2 linked regions of the Homo sapiens genome follow. Changing the gene in region 1 together with any one later gene gives a genetic interaction. Each region holds a gene or a part of one and is shown on either strand. Other genes may lie near its edges.

The links. A genetic interaction does not mean that the proteins touch.
Region 2: of GLI1 (region 1) and SAP18, changing one suppresses a phenotype caused by changing the other (phenotypic suppression), as found in Homo sapiens cells (one study listed by BioGRID).

Annotation. Positions count from the first base shown.
Region 1 is NC_000012.12:57,462,753-57,469,788, reverse strand, and holds part of GLI1 (zinc finger protein GLI1), read right to left. Parts: exon of another isoform or gene 6,817-7,036; intron 6,125-6,816; 5' UTR 6,098-6,124; coding exon 5,998-6,097; intron 5,791-5,997; coding exon 5,698-5,790; intron 5,117-5,697; coding exon 4,921-5,116; intron 4,679-4,920; coding exon 4,534-4,678; intron 4,183-4,533; coding exon 4,093-4,182; intron 4,002-4,092; coding exon 3,864-4,001; intron 3,550-3,863; coding exon 3,400-3,549; intron 2,457-3,399; coding exon 2,292-2,456; intron 1,796-2,291; coding exon 1,565-1,795; intron 359-1,564; coding exon 91-358; intron 1-90. UniProt on the Homo sapiens protein: Acts as a transcriptional activator. Binds to the DNA consensus sequence 5'-GACCACCCA-3'. Regulates the transcription of specific genes during normal development.
Region 2 is NC_000013.11:21,143,118-21,149,632, forward strand, and holds the end of SAP18 (histone deacetylase complex subunit SAP18), read left to right. Parts: intron 1-1,974; coding exon of another isoform or gene 1,975-2,167; intron 2,168-3,687; coding exon 3,688-3,810; intron 3,811-4,068; coding exon 4,069-4,225; 3' UTR 4,226-5,980; downstream 5,981-6,515. UniProt on the Homo sapiens protein: Component of the SIN3-repressing complex. Enhances the ability of SIN3-HDAC1-mediated transcriptional repression. When tethered to the promoter, it can direct the formation of a repressive complex to core histone proteins.

The sequences.
Region 1 (7,036 bases):
TGTGACAGCCCTCAAGGGTGACTTCCTCCTCTCAACCTCAGGGCAGGTCCAGATCTCACCCCAGCCACACCTCCCACACCCAGGTCTCACCGGTGTGGGACAAGCTGGGCAGTTTGAGACCCCGGGTCCCTATTGGCCGGAGTTGATGTAGCTGGTCCAGCCTGAGGTTCTCAAGGCGGCGAAGAGTGGACAGACCAGTGCCAGCAATGCAAGGTCCCTCGTCCAAGCTGGAGAGGTCTTCAGTGCTGCCCCCTGCATTGCCAGTCATTTCCACACCACTGTCTGTATTGGCTGCACTCCCTGCCGGGGAGTGGTCACTGCTGCAGGATGACTGGGCCCCAGGGCTTGGCTGTGGCTTCTGTGGAGAAGATGAGGTCTGAGGGCAACACCCTTCCCCACAGCTCCTTCAACTTGATGAGTGGCTGAAGCCTGTGTCCCAGTGACTGCTGGGGTTCCAAGGAAGCTTGTAAGTGTAGAAAGGGCTAAGCAGGTAAGAGATGGGGGAGCAAACTGAATGTGAGACGTTTGATGAGAAGAACCTAGGCTGGAGCACGGACTGGCTGGACTCAAATTCTTGCTCTTAGTTCTATGACCTTGGGCTATTTCTCTATGCCTGAGTTTCTTCAACTGAAAATGGGAACAGTGAGTCCCTTTATCATGAAGTTGCTGTGAGGAGTACATGAAATTATACATGTAAAAGGCTTGGAACATATACTAAGTGCTATTTAAGAAAGAGTTGCCGGGTGCAGTGGCTCACGCCTGTAATCCCAGCACTTTGGGAGGCCGAGGTGGGCAGATCACGAGGTCAGGAGATCAAGACCACCCTGGTTAACACAGTGAAACCCCATGTCTACTAAAAATACAAAAAAATTAGCCCGGCGTGGTGGCAGGCGCCTGTAGTCCCAGCTACTCAGGAGGCTGAGGCAGAATGGCGTGAACCTGGGAGGCGGAGGTTGCAGTGAGCCGAGATCATGCCACTGCACTCCAGCCTGGGCAACAGAGCGAGACTCCGTCTGAAAAAAAAAGAAAGAGTTTGGGTTGGATGCATTGGCTCATCCCAGCACTGTGGGAAGCTGAGGTGGGAGGATCGCTCAAGGCCAGGAGTTTGAGACCAGCCTGGTCAACATAGCAAGACTCGATCTCTAAAAAGAAGAAAAATTAGCCAGGCATGATGGGGTGTGCCTGTAGTGATCACTTGAGCCCAGAAGTTTGAGGCTGCAGTGAGCTATGATTATGCCACTACACTCCAGCCTGGGCGACAGAGCAAGACTCTGTCAGAAAGAAAGAGAGAAAGAGAGAGAGAGAGAAAGAAAGAAAGGAAGAAAGGAAAGAAGGAAAGAAGGAAGGAAGGAGAGAGAGAAAGAGAGTGAGAGAGTGAGACAGAAAGATTCTAAAACCTCTAGATTTGGGGAAGCCCAAAGAGCAACACTAAGACAAGAGACAGGCAGACTGGTCACAGAAGAGTGACTTCTATAGGAGGGAATGGATGGGTTGGGAAGTAACTAGAAAGATGTCCACAGGGTGGGCTGGGGTATGGAGGTGAGGGTTGCCTGGGCTCTCTCACCATGGCACCCTCTGGCACAGTCAGTCTGCTTTCCTCCCTGATGGGACCTCCTTCCCGCTCCCTCTTGGGCTCCACTGTAGAAATGGATGGTGCCCGAGGCAGGGGGCCATCCCCACGGTGCCGTTTGGTCACATGGGCGTCAGGACCATGCACTGTCTTGACATGTTTTCGCAGCGAGCTAGGATCTGTATAGCGTTTGGTGCAGCCAGGGAGCTTACATACATACGGCTTCTGTTGAGTGGAGAGTGGAGACAGAAGGCAAACGGATCAAAGCGGAAGAATGCAGAAGAAATGGGAAAAAGTGGTGACAACACAGGGGGCAGGGGAGGAGCACACAGCACCAAAGGAAGTAAGGAGGATGGAGGCCTCCGGTGGGAGTCAAAGATGCAGAGATTAAGTGGAGGGTTAGGAAAACTGACAGCCTGGGAAAGATGAGGGGGTGAACCCAGGGCTGTGAGGTCCCATAAATCCAGGGGTTGGAGGGATCAGGGGTCTCCTCTAGATGGAATCTTTTAGGTTAGCCTTTTGGCTGGTTAGAGGTTAGAGGTAGGAGGAGGAGTGGTTAAGTGGAAATTCTGGGTTTCAGAAAAGCCTTTTCTGGGCGAATTATGTGGGGAGGGGGACTCACCTCTGTGGAGTGGGTGCTGGGCTAAGGGATTTCTTATGGGGGAATCTCCCTGGTAGGTGGCTTCTCAAGAGGGGAGGGTCGCTTAGTTAGGGCATTCACCTCATTGGAATGGGTCCGATTCTGGTGCTTGGCTCGGTCACTGGCATTGCTGAAGGCTTTACTGCAGCCCTCGTGCTCACACATGTATGGCTTCTCACCCGTGTGTGACCGCAGGTGCGTCTTCAGGTTTTCGAGGCGTGAGTATGACTTCCGGCACCCTTCAAACTGGGGGACATGCAGGGGTCAAAGGATAGTTCTCAGACAGAGGACATGGAGATGGAAGGAACCCTCAATCTCCAACAGGACACACATCAGAGAATATAACTCAAGATGAAAGGCACTGGGGCTTCGAGAGAATTCCCAAAACTAGGGGACAAGGGCAGGCAAGAACTTGGAGAAGGGAAGCAGTTGGAGGCACTCTCCCTTTGGGAATATAAAGATGCTAGAGCATCTTCTGACCAAGCCAGGGCAGATTTCTCTGCATGGGGATCTTAGGCTGTCCCAAGATGGGGTCATCTTGGGGGAACGGGCTGTTGTCCTTGATGCAGGGTTTATCCATTAGGCAGAGTAGTAGGCACAGTACTGAAGGCCAACAATACTTTAAGAGGCCCACGAACATGTTTTAATGTCTTTTTTAAAAAAAATTTTTTTTTTGAGGCGGAGTTTTGCTCTGTCGCCCAGGCTGGAGTGCAGTGGCGCCATCTCAGCTCACTGCAACCTCCACCTCCTTGGTTCAAGTGATTCTTCTGCCTCATCCTCCCAAGTAGCAGGGACTACAGGCGCCCATCACCACGCCCAGCTAATTTTTATATTTTTTAGTAGAGACAGGGTTTCACCAATATTGGCCAAGCTGGTCTCGAACTCCTGACCTTGTGATCTGCCTGGCTCAGCCTCCCAAAGTGCTGGGATTACAGGTGTGAGCCACCGTGCCTGGCCTGTTTTAATGTCTTTTAAAATCAAGGGGAAAAAAATGAGCTTTTAGGTCCAAGAGTGTTTTAATATATATCATCATATTCATCTTTATGCCAACACAGTCACACAAACATTATTTTTAATATTTGTTTATGGAAGAAAGGACTTATAAAAGCAAAAGTCTGCCTTGGGCCCTACCTTGAAGGAGAGCCCTGATTTAGGAAGAGACCCTGGACTTGGGACACTGGTGCCTCACCGTGCACTTGTGTGGCTTCTCGCCAGTGTGTCTGCGCATGTGAACCACCAGCATGTACTGGGCTTTGAAGGGCCTCAGCTCCCTGGAGCAGCCCCCCCAGTGGCACACGAACTCCTTCCGCTCCCCGTGGATGTGCTCGCTGTTGATGTGCTGAGGGAGAAGATACAAAGGCTCTCCAAGGCTCTCCCATGACCCTGAGGTCCAGAACAGACCTTCCCTCCACCCCCTGTTCCTCTTCCACGACTCCACCTCAAGGAGGAAGAGGCAGGAGCAATATCATATCTCACATCTCAGGTCTTCCAGCTCCCTAAGGCAAAGCTACAACTTCTGAGCTTCTGCCTACCCAACTGAGCATTCAACCTCAGTCTCCTCTGACCTCCTGCCCTCAGCCGGATTCCACCATGTCCCACTCAGAATCTCCTAAAGGTTCTGGCTAGCCATTCCTGTTACCCCCTGGGGCTCACGTGCACCAGCTGCTCTTGGGAGTCAAATTCCTGGCTGCAGCCATCCCAACGGCAGTCAGTTTCATACACAGATTCAGGCTCACGCTTCTCCTCTCTCTCGAGGTCCTCCCGCCCATCCAGCATCCCCAACAGGGGATCCTAGGGCAAGAGAGGCAATCTCAGGGTCACTTGGGTGACAGCTTTAGTTTTGCTCAGGTCCCAGAGGTAAAGCTCCTGCCCATCCCCTTACCTGTATGCCTGTGGAGTTGGGGCTGGACATATCACCTTCCAAGGGTTCCTCCCGGCACTTGCCAACCAGCATGTCCAGCTCAGACTTCAGCTTCCCCAGGGGAAGAGGTGACGGTGATGAGGGTGGAAGTAAGCAGAAGGAAGAGGAAACCAAGCCAGGTCTTCCTGCCCTAAGTGCCCCCACCCAAGCAGCTGGAACCTCCTGGGTTTGGAAGGGACTTCCTCCTCAGACTACACTGGTGAATGGGATGGGCAAAAGGTGGGATCCCATTTGGAAGCGTCTGACTCAACTGCAAGGAGTGAACCCCAGCACCCACACCTCTTTACTTTTCTAGTACTGAAAACTTATATCCCTTGTCCTTCCTTCACCTTTCCCCTACAAAATCCACCACCCACCCACCCTGAGCTGAGGGAAATCAGGTAGCAATATGGGGACTCTCACCTGGCAAGTTGGGAAGGGTCCCCGGGACTGAGGATGTGGGATCATCCCACCCCGGGCAGAGTCATGGGGACCACAAGGCTGGACCCCAAAGGAAGGCGAGGGCCCTTTTTGGTGATTCATCTGGGCTGGGAATCCCAGAGATGGGCTGAGGAGGAGAGGAGGCAGTTACTTAAGACAATTAGGAAGTCTCAGGAAGGATTGGGCTATTTGGAGGATTTCTGGAAGACTTGGGATTTGTAGTGGTTGAGGCAGTCCCAGGGAAGTACTGAGGAGAGTTGTCTTTGAAATGACAAGGATTCAAATAGGGTTAGGTAGTTTGAGGGCTTGAGACTTTTAATGGACTTGGGTAGGGGCTTTAGGGGCCTCTTGGCCCGGGGCTGACTGCACCTCATGGTGCCAATGGAGAGATGACCGTAGGAGCCTCCTGGAGATGTGCATCGCGAGTTGATGAAAGCTACGAGGGAGCTGGGTGAGGTGCGGATAACCGTCTGCAGGTCCAGGCTGGCATCCGACAGAGGTGAGATGGACAGTGCCCGCTTCTTGGTCAACTTGACTGCACTCCGGGGAGAAGAAAAGAGTGGGCCTGGGGCAGGAGACAGCGGAGACGGATATGGTAAAGGGGCATGTCTCTCCATGCACCTAACCTATGGGTCCTGACTTGGCAAAACCAATGATACTTGATTCTGCTTTGCCCTATTGATGCTATCTGTGACTTTTTTTTTTTTTTTTTGAGAGACACAGAGTCATGCTCTGTAACCCAGGCTGGAGTGCGTGGCACCATCTTGCCTCACTGCAACCTCTGCGTTCCCAGGTTCAAGTGATTCTCCTGCCTCAGCCTCCCCTGTAATCGGCACTACAGGTGCAAGCCACCACGCCCGGCTAATTTTTGTATTGTTAGTAGAGACAGGGTTTCACCATGTTGGCCTGGCTGGTCTTGAATTCCCGACCTCAAGCGATCTTCCTGCCACGGCTTCCCCACAAAGTGCTGGGATTACAGGCGTGAGCCACCGCGCCCGGCCCCATCTGTGACTTCTTGATGGTGCTCTGACGCCTCACATCTCCAAGCATCTCCTCCTCCAAGTGAGATCCCCTGCCCTCCCACTTTCTCTTTCAGAACAAGTCAGAGAGGGGCAGAAAGGGAAGAGGTGTTGCCTGAGCCCTCACCCTCGGTGCAGCTGTTGGTCTCTCTGGCTGGCCCATAACTGTGGGGGCCGGACATGAGGTTAGCTTGGTGGCAGAAGGGCGGGCCAGACAGTCCTAGAAAAAAGAGACAGCTGGAATGGGAATGGAGGATACATAAACCTCACCTTAAAACCCCAGACATGACCTGATCCCAGATTCCAGGTCCATATGACATGGGGCCTCAAATCCTCCTGTAGATAGGAAACTGGCATGGGGTGGGGGTGGGCCCAAGTGGGAGATCTGCCAAATCCTCAAGGCCCAGGGATTGGTATATACACTGACCTTCTGTCCCCACACTGGGGGCCCCCTGACTGGGGAGGGGCCGGAGACAGCAGGGCTCGCCATAGCTACTGATTGGTGGTGGGGTCATCGAGTTGAACATGGCGTCTCAGAGGAGGGTGTGGGGACACTGCAGAAAGGGAAGGTAGGTATAAAGGTGGAGGAAATAGAGACTGTCAGACAGCAGTCTCAGGCACAGAATCCTGGGCAGAACATCCCTGGTATCCCCCACCCCTCTAAGACATCTGCCACGGAATTCGAGTTGAAAAGAGCATCACTGAGCCGGGCACAGTGGCTCACGCCTGTAATTCCAACGCTTTGAGAGGCTGAGGCGGGAGGATCACCTGAGGTCAGTTGAAGACCAGCCTGGCCAACATGGTGAAACCCCCGTCTCTACAAAAAAACAAAAATTAGCCAGTCATGATGGCGGGTGCCTGTAATCCCAGCTACTCGGAAGGCTGAGGCAGAAGAATCGCTTGAACCTGGGAGGCGGAGGTTTCAGTGAGCCGAGATGGTGCCACTGCACTCCAGCCTGGGTGACAGAGCTAGACTCCGTCTCAAAACAAAAAAAGCATCACTCGCTGAGTGAGGGGAGGGGTAAGGGGAAATGATGTCCCAGAGAGGCAGAGGCAGTCTTGTAGTCTGTGTACTCTGGGGATCTTCTTGGGAACTGGGTGGGAGCTTTGCCTGGGTGGGAGCTTTGCCTGTGTGGTCTGTGTGTAGAAGGCATGTTTTGGACTAATTGTGCCTATATTAACTTCAAGTGATTTTAGTAACATGGACCCTCTAATTCTTCTTGCTGTAACCCTGGGCCGGCTTTGAGGGTGGGATGGGAGAACTCGTGTGATGGATCTGACTTCAAGCACTGGGCGGCTCTGCTAGAGCCCGTTCCCCCTTCCTTCTCGTGCCCCTCCCCAGGGACAGCCCGTGTACAATCTCTGCAGTGTCCAGCAGAGGGAGCCCTAGCCACAGTCCCGACACAGAGCCAGGTGGGGCCAGGAGGGAGCACAAGCCATCTGCCCTCTTAGACAGAAAACAGTGT
Region 2 (6,515 bases), on another chromosome or scaffold:
TTGATGGACACTTGGGTTGTTTCACCTTTTTTGCCATTGTGAATAATGCTGCTGTGAACATTGGCATACAAATGTGTTTGTGTCGCTGCTTTCAGTTCTTTTGGGTATGTACCTAGGAGGGGATTACTGGGTCATATGTTAACTTTGTTTAATTTTTGAGGAACCACCAAACTTTTTCACAGCAGCTGCACTATTTTATATTCCCCAAAAGATGTATAATTTTAAACTATTTAAGCCCTGTACACTAGAGCTAATCCCTTGAAGATTGGGACCTTACTTGTCTTATTTGGAGGTGCTTGTTAAATTTATGTAGTAGTATGATACCTGTACTTAAGCATCACTCAAGGGTAAGTGTTCTAGGAAGGTTGATTTAGCTTATATGGAAGAACTGTTGAATAATGGCTTGATGAAAATCTCTTCAGAAATTAAAGTGTATGTTTCTTCCAACAAGAGTTCCTATTTGCCAGGTGCTGTGTGTGCTTAGATCCTGAGGGTATAAAGTCAAGACGGTACTGCTCCTCCCTGTAGTAAGTCCTTTTATCAGGGAAAGCGGATGAATAGAGTGATTTTTAGGGTTAAAATGGCAGGGTGAGGTTGTTCCACAGACCTTCCACTCTGAATCAAGAAAAAAAATTACCAAAAAAATCCTGTCCTAAACTATACCGTCCATAAATTGCAACCAAACAAAGAAGGAACAACTTTAAGTTACATCTCAAAATGGTGGCCAAAGAAAAGATTCTGAAAGACTGGATGATTGGTATGGGGGTAACACAAAGGCCTGCCCTCATTCCCAGAAATAGTAATGAGGGAAAATTAGTTAACATATACTGGAAATTCTCAATTTGGAGAAGTAGACTGTGGGGTTAAATAGGCAGTCCCAAGAGAAGTTATGGAAACAGGAGTGGAAGTCCAGAGGAGCCCAGTAGAGGCAGGCTGTGTTCACCAAAGTCAATCAGGGCTCAGCCAGAAAAACAGAATTGGGAGAGATGTGTTAAGAGATTTATTTCTGCTGGGCGTGGTGGCTCACGCCTGTAATCCCAGCACTTTGGGAGGCCGAGGTGGGCGGGTCATGAGGTCAGGAGTTGGAGACCAGCCTGGCCAACATGGTGAAACCCCGTCTCTGCTAAAAATACAAAAATTAGCCAGGCATGGTGGCGGGTGCCTGTAATCCCAACTACTTGGGAGGCTGAGGCAGGAGAATTGCTTGAACCCAGGTGGCAGAGGTTGCAGTGAGCCGAGATCAGCGCCACTGCACTCCAGCCCGGGCGACAGAGCGGGACTCCATCTCAAAAAAAAAAAAAAAAAAAAAAAAAAGCTTTATTGCAAAGAATTTGGTTTACGTGATTGTGGGGGCTGTCTAGGCCCTTAATTGTCAAATCTGTAGGGCAGGTTCTCAGGAAGGAAAGGCTGCTCTTAGGGCCTTTCAACTAATAGAATCAGGCCTCCCCAGATTATATAGGATAGACCTCTGAATTTAAGGTCAATTGGTTGTTGACTTTAGTCACATCTATAAAATATCTCACAGCAATACCTAGGTTAGTGTTTGGTTGAATATCTGGGGACTGTAGCTTCGTCAAGCTGACACAAGTACTGAACCCCACCCTGTCCTCAAGCTTCTGACTAGTGATGAAAAAGCAACACTTGGCACTCCAATTGTTGGTCTGGAAAGACAGTCCTTAGAAGGTGGGAAGCTTGTGTAGGTTTCACACTGTCAGAACTGATAAAAGGTGTGATATAAATCCCCCAAATTAATTAAGAGCAAGACAATATTGAAAATATTTTTAGAAAGGAAAAAATTCTTTCTGGTATATATCATCATAAGTATGTACTGTGTATCAGAATATAGACTGAGCATCGCAAGTCCAAAATCTGAAATGCCACAAAATCTGAAACTTTTGAGAGCTGACGTGACACCGGTGGAAAATTGCACACATAAGTTCTTGACCTCTTTTTTTTTTTTTTTTTTTGAGACAGAGTCTTGCTCTGTCATCCAGGCTGGAGTGCAGTGGCGCGATCTCGGCTCACTGCAACCTCTGCCTCCCAGGTATAAGCGATTCTCCTGCCTCAGCCTCCTGAGTAGCTGGGATTACAGGCGTGCACCAAACTTCCTTTCATGCACACAATTACTTAAAATGATGTATAAAATTGTATTCCAGCTGTGTATAAGGTATGTTTGAAACATAAATGAGTTTCTTATTTAAACTTGGGTCACAACCCCAAGATATCTTACGTATATGCAAAAATTCTAAAATTTGAAAAAACCTAAAACGCTTCTAGTCCCATGTATTTTGGGTAAGGGATACTGAACCTATAATTGATACAGAATAGTTAACATCAAAATATCAGGTTGAAAAAAGGTCACCTCTGAGACAGATAAACCAATGTGACCTCAGGTTTTTTTGTTTTTGAGACAGAGTCTCAGTCTGTCACCCAGGCTGGAGCACAGTGGCACAGTCTTGGCTCACTGCAGCCTCCGCCTCCCAGGTCAAGCGATTCTCTTGTCTCAGCCTCTCGAGTAGCTGGGATTATAGGCTACAGATGTGTGCCACAACGCCTGGCTAATTTTTGGATTTTTAGTAGAAACGGGGTTTCACCATGTTGGCCAGGCTGCTCTCGAACTTGAGCTCCTGGCCTCAGGTGATCCACCCGCCTTGGCCTCCCAAAGTGCTGGGATTACAGGCATGAGCCTCCGCACCTGGCAAAAAAATGTATACTAGGTTATTTCTAAGATGCTTATATGTTAAAATATTTTTTTCAGATTGTTCTCTTATTAGCTCAGGGGACTATATGAAAGTTGGATTCAAGTCAATATTTGCAGGGTAAGAAACTATTGTGACAAGAGCCTGTGCTTCATTGTAAGAAACTTTTGTATATTTCATTGGCTCTAGTACTCTTATCTGTTGTAAAACTTACAATTCTATCTAAGAAAGAAGAAACACATCTGGCTGGGCGCAGTGGCTCACGCTTGTAATCAATCCCAGCACTTTGGGAGGCCAAGATAGGTGGATCACTTGAAGTCAGGAGTTCGAGACCAGCATGGCCAACATGGTGAAACCCTGTCTCTACTAAAAATAGAAAAATTACCTGGGCGTGGTGGTGGGCGTCTGTAATCCCAGCTACTCAGGAGGCTGAGGCAGGAGAATTGCTTGAACCTGGGAGGCGGAGGTTGCAGTGAGCTGAGGTCACGCCACTGCACTCTAGCCTGGGCGACAGAGCGAGACTCTCTCAAAAACAAAACGTCAGTATGAAAATGCTTTCCTAGTACATTGATTCTAAGATACATTCCAATTTCAGAGATGCTAAAATGTGGAAGGGTACATGTCTTAGAACTAATGGGATACATCTATTTTGCATATTTGGATTTATTTGGACTAGTTACCCTTAGGTAAATCACTAGGCCATAAGGTGTTGTGTAGCAACAGAAGATAGCATATAGAATCTCTGAAGTCCCTTTTAGCACTAAGAGTCTAATTAATTGAAATTTCCAGCAGTAAGGCTGGTACATGGAGTTTTTGGAGGCAAATAGTATTTTTAGCTGCTTTAAAATTAATCTCTAGTATAAGACCCTGGCAGTTTCTAATGTAAATCACAACTCAGATATATGTAATTAACTCATTGTTAGTATCCCTTTTAATATTATTGCTGATTAATAAGCAAATGTAAATGTCTTTTTTAAAAAAAATCCAGGATGGATGCAACCTTGAAAGAACTGACAAGCTTAGTAAAAGAAGTCTACCCAGAAGCTAGAAAGAAGGGCACTCACTTCAATTTTGCAATCGTTTTTACAGATGTTAAAAGACCTGGCTATCGGTAGGTAACTTCTCATTTTTAAGTCCTGTAATCTCTTTGTTTTTAGTATGTTTTAACTGATACAGATAACTCCTTCAATGAATCTTGTTAGTGGGAGAATATGGGTTTATATTAATACGTGGTTTGGCTTAATAAAGTAGTTAAATTTTGGAAGTGTGTTATAAAATGATGGAGAAAATCCAGTGCCATATTCACTTTGTAGTACATACTGGGTTTCATTGATTTGGATCCATTAACAGTTGATTTTCTTTCTTACAGAGTTAAGGAGATTGGCAGCACCATGTCTGGCAGAAAGGGGACTGATGATTCCATGACCCTGCAGTCGCAGAAGTTCCAGATAGGAGATTACTTGGACATAGCAATTACCCCTCCAAATCGGGCACCACCTCCTTCAGGGCGCATGAGACCATATTAAATTCTATTTACTATTTGTTGAATTTATTTTTCCGTCAGTTATGTAAAATAAACATACTCTTCTTCCTCCCCTGATTATTGCCATTAAGCCTTTAAATTCTAAACAAATTATAATGCATCATCTATTTAGGAGTTAGATTTGGATGTGCTATTGTATGATTACGAATAGTCTGTATGTTTCAAGCCCTTCTGTAAAATATGAAGAAAAGTGCTCTTAGCATTCTGTGTAAAACTGTACTGTTAAATATATGTGTGTAATCAGCCTGAGTGTGAAAGTTAATGGAGGCCTGGGAACAGGGTTTATACTAAGTAGTGGAGGAGCGTATGGTTAAGCCCAAAGGGGCAGAACAAGAAAGCCACGGGATTGTATGAAATCAAACATGAGTTTGTGGTGTAGACTGCTGTATGCAGTTGGAAAGGACACGTGAGAGTGAGCTCAAGTGGCAGCAGAGGCAGTTTGGAATAAGCTGCGGCAAGTTGAAGAAGCTGTGTTGGACGAGATTGCCCCGCCTTGATCAGGGTACCATGACATAAAAGGTTAAAGAACAGGCAACACAATGAGCACTTAAGTTTTTAACATGTGGGGAATAGGGCATTTTAAAGGCTGGAACCAGTTCAGAGGAAACAAGGGTTTGGGTAGAGGTAGAAAGGTTTAATTAACCCTGGAGATCTGCAAATGGAGGGAGGGGTGAAGGAGGAATCTTAAGACCGAGGGAGAAGAGCCAAGGACAAGGTCAGGTTGAATGAGTAGGAGGTGTTCACACATCCTCTTGTGTGCTAGGTAGTGGCGTGCATCTGATCTGAGAGGCAGTAAAGCAGTGATGAAGACAGTGCAGCAGAACATTGAAGTCCTGATTGCAGCAGTGACTCTGCAACCTTGGATAAATTATTTCAATCTTTATTTTGTAAAACGGAGATAACGGCCTATAGGATTGTTAAGACTGAATATTTTAAAAGAGCTTAGAATGGTGCCTGACAAATGAGAAACAATAAATACTGATTATTGGCCATAAAGTGGTATTAAAACTGGATCTCTTTTCTTCCATGGCACTACTCTCATTTTGAAGTTTATGAACAGTACGACAGTGTATTGTAAATTCCCTTTAGTTTGTTACAGTAGCCAATTGAAAATGTATATCCCAAAATTTAAAAAAAAAAGTACCAGCAGCAATAAAATTGCACTAGTTTTATCTGGTACATACAAAAACAGCCATTTAAAATCTGATGATTCTGTGGAATTGGTGTCCCTGTTAGCAATGGCAGAGACCAGCCTGGAGCCTAGATCTGGTGCTTCTTCTGTGCTGTGGTTTACCCCAAACCTTTAGGTTGTTTATTCATTCAGATTAGATAGACTGGAGCCATAAAGTTAATTTGCACCTAGCTTTTTGGAGAATAGCCATGATTAACTGCTATTCGTGGTGGGGGTGGGGGGGAACCCTATGATTTACTATGCAGATGAAGAGGGTAGGAACTAAATAAAGGACTTTGTAAGCCAAAGTGGTTGGGCTGCTTTGTCAAATTCCACCCTTTGCTTGGTTCCAACATGGAATTTCTCCTTTAAAGATTTCAATATCCCATCAAAAGTACAGTTAGAGAATACCTAGTGAATTTATTGAATATAATGCTAAGAATCAAAAGACTTGTACTAGTTTACCTCTGGCTTTGGTAAGTGTGGCTTTGAGTAATAACTGAGCTGTTTCCCCGCATATAAAATAGAAATAAATAAGTAGTCATCATGACAGCATCTTGCTCAGTGCTTTAGTGTCTGCCCTGGTTGCCTCATTTGCTCCTAGGTATTTTGGAATTGACGTTTTCCCTTTGGAATATGTGTTACAGTACATGATATTGCCTATAATGTCTTTTTAGTTTTTCACGGTGTACAAAAACTGGGACGGTTATGCCCAGCTGATCATTGACTCAGGTAATGTTTTAGGTATCGGTTGTATGCATGTGAGGGGCAGGTGTGAATGTAGAAAGAAACATTATTAGGCTAGGTTTAAAATTCTCTAAAGTTGAACATAATAAGGAGCTGAACTTGATGCACCTCTTTCTTGTTCAATTAAACACATTTCAGACTTGTTTTTGTGAAATAGAAGGCAACACTCTAAATCAAGTTTGTAACTATGATTTAAGTGTTTACTTGTGCCAAACACAGATGGTTCCCAAGTTATGATAGTTCAACTTTAGATTTTTCAGCTTTGCAGTGGCGCATAAGCGATAAGCCATTCACTACGGTCCTCAGCTTATTATGGGGCTACATCCCAATAAACCAGCTGCCAACTGAACATCTT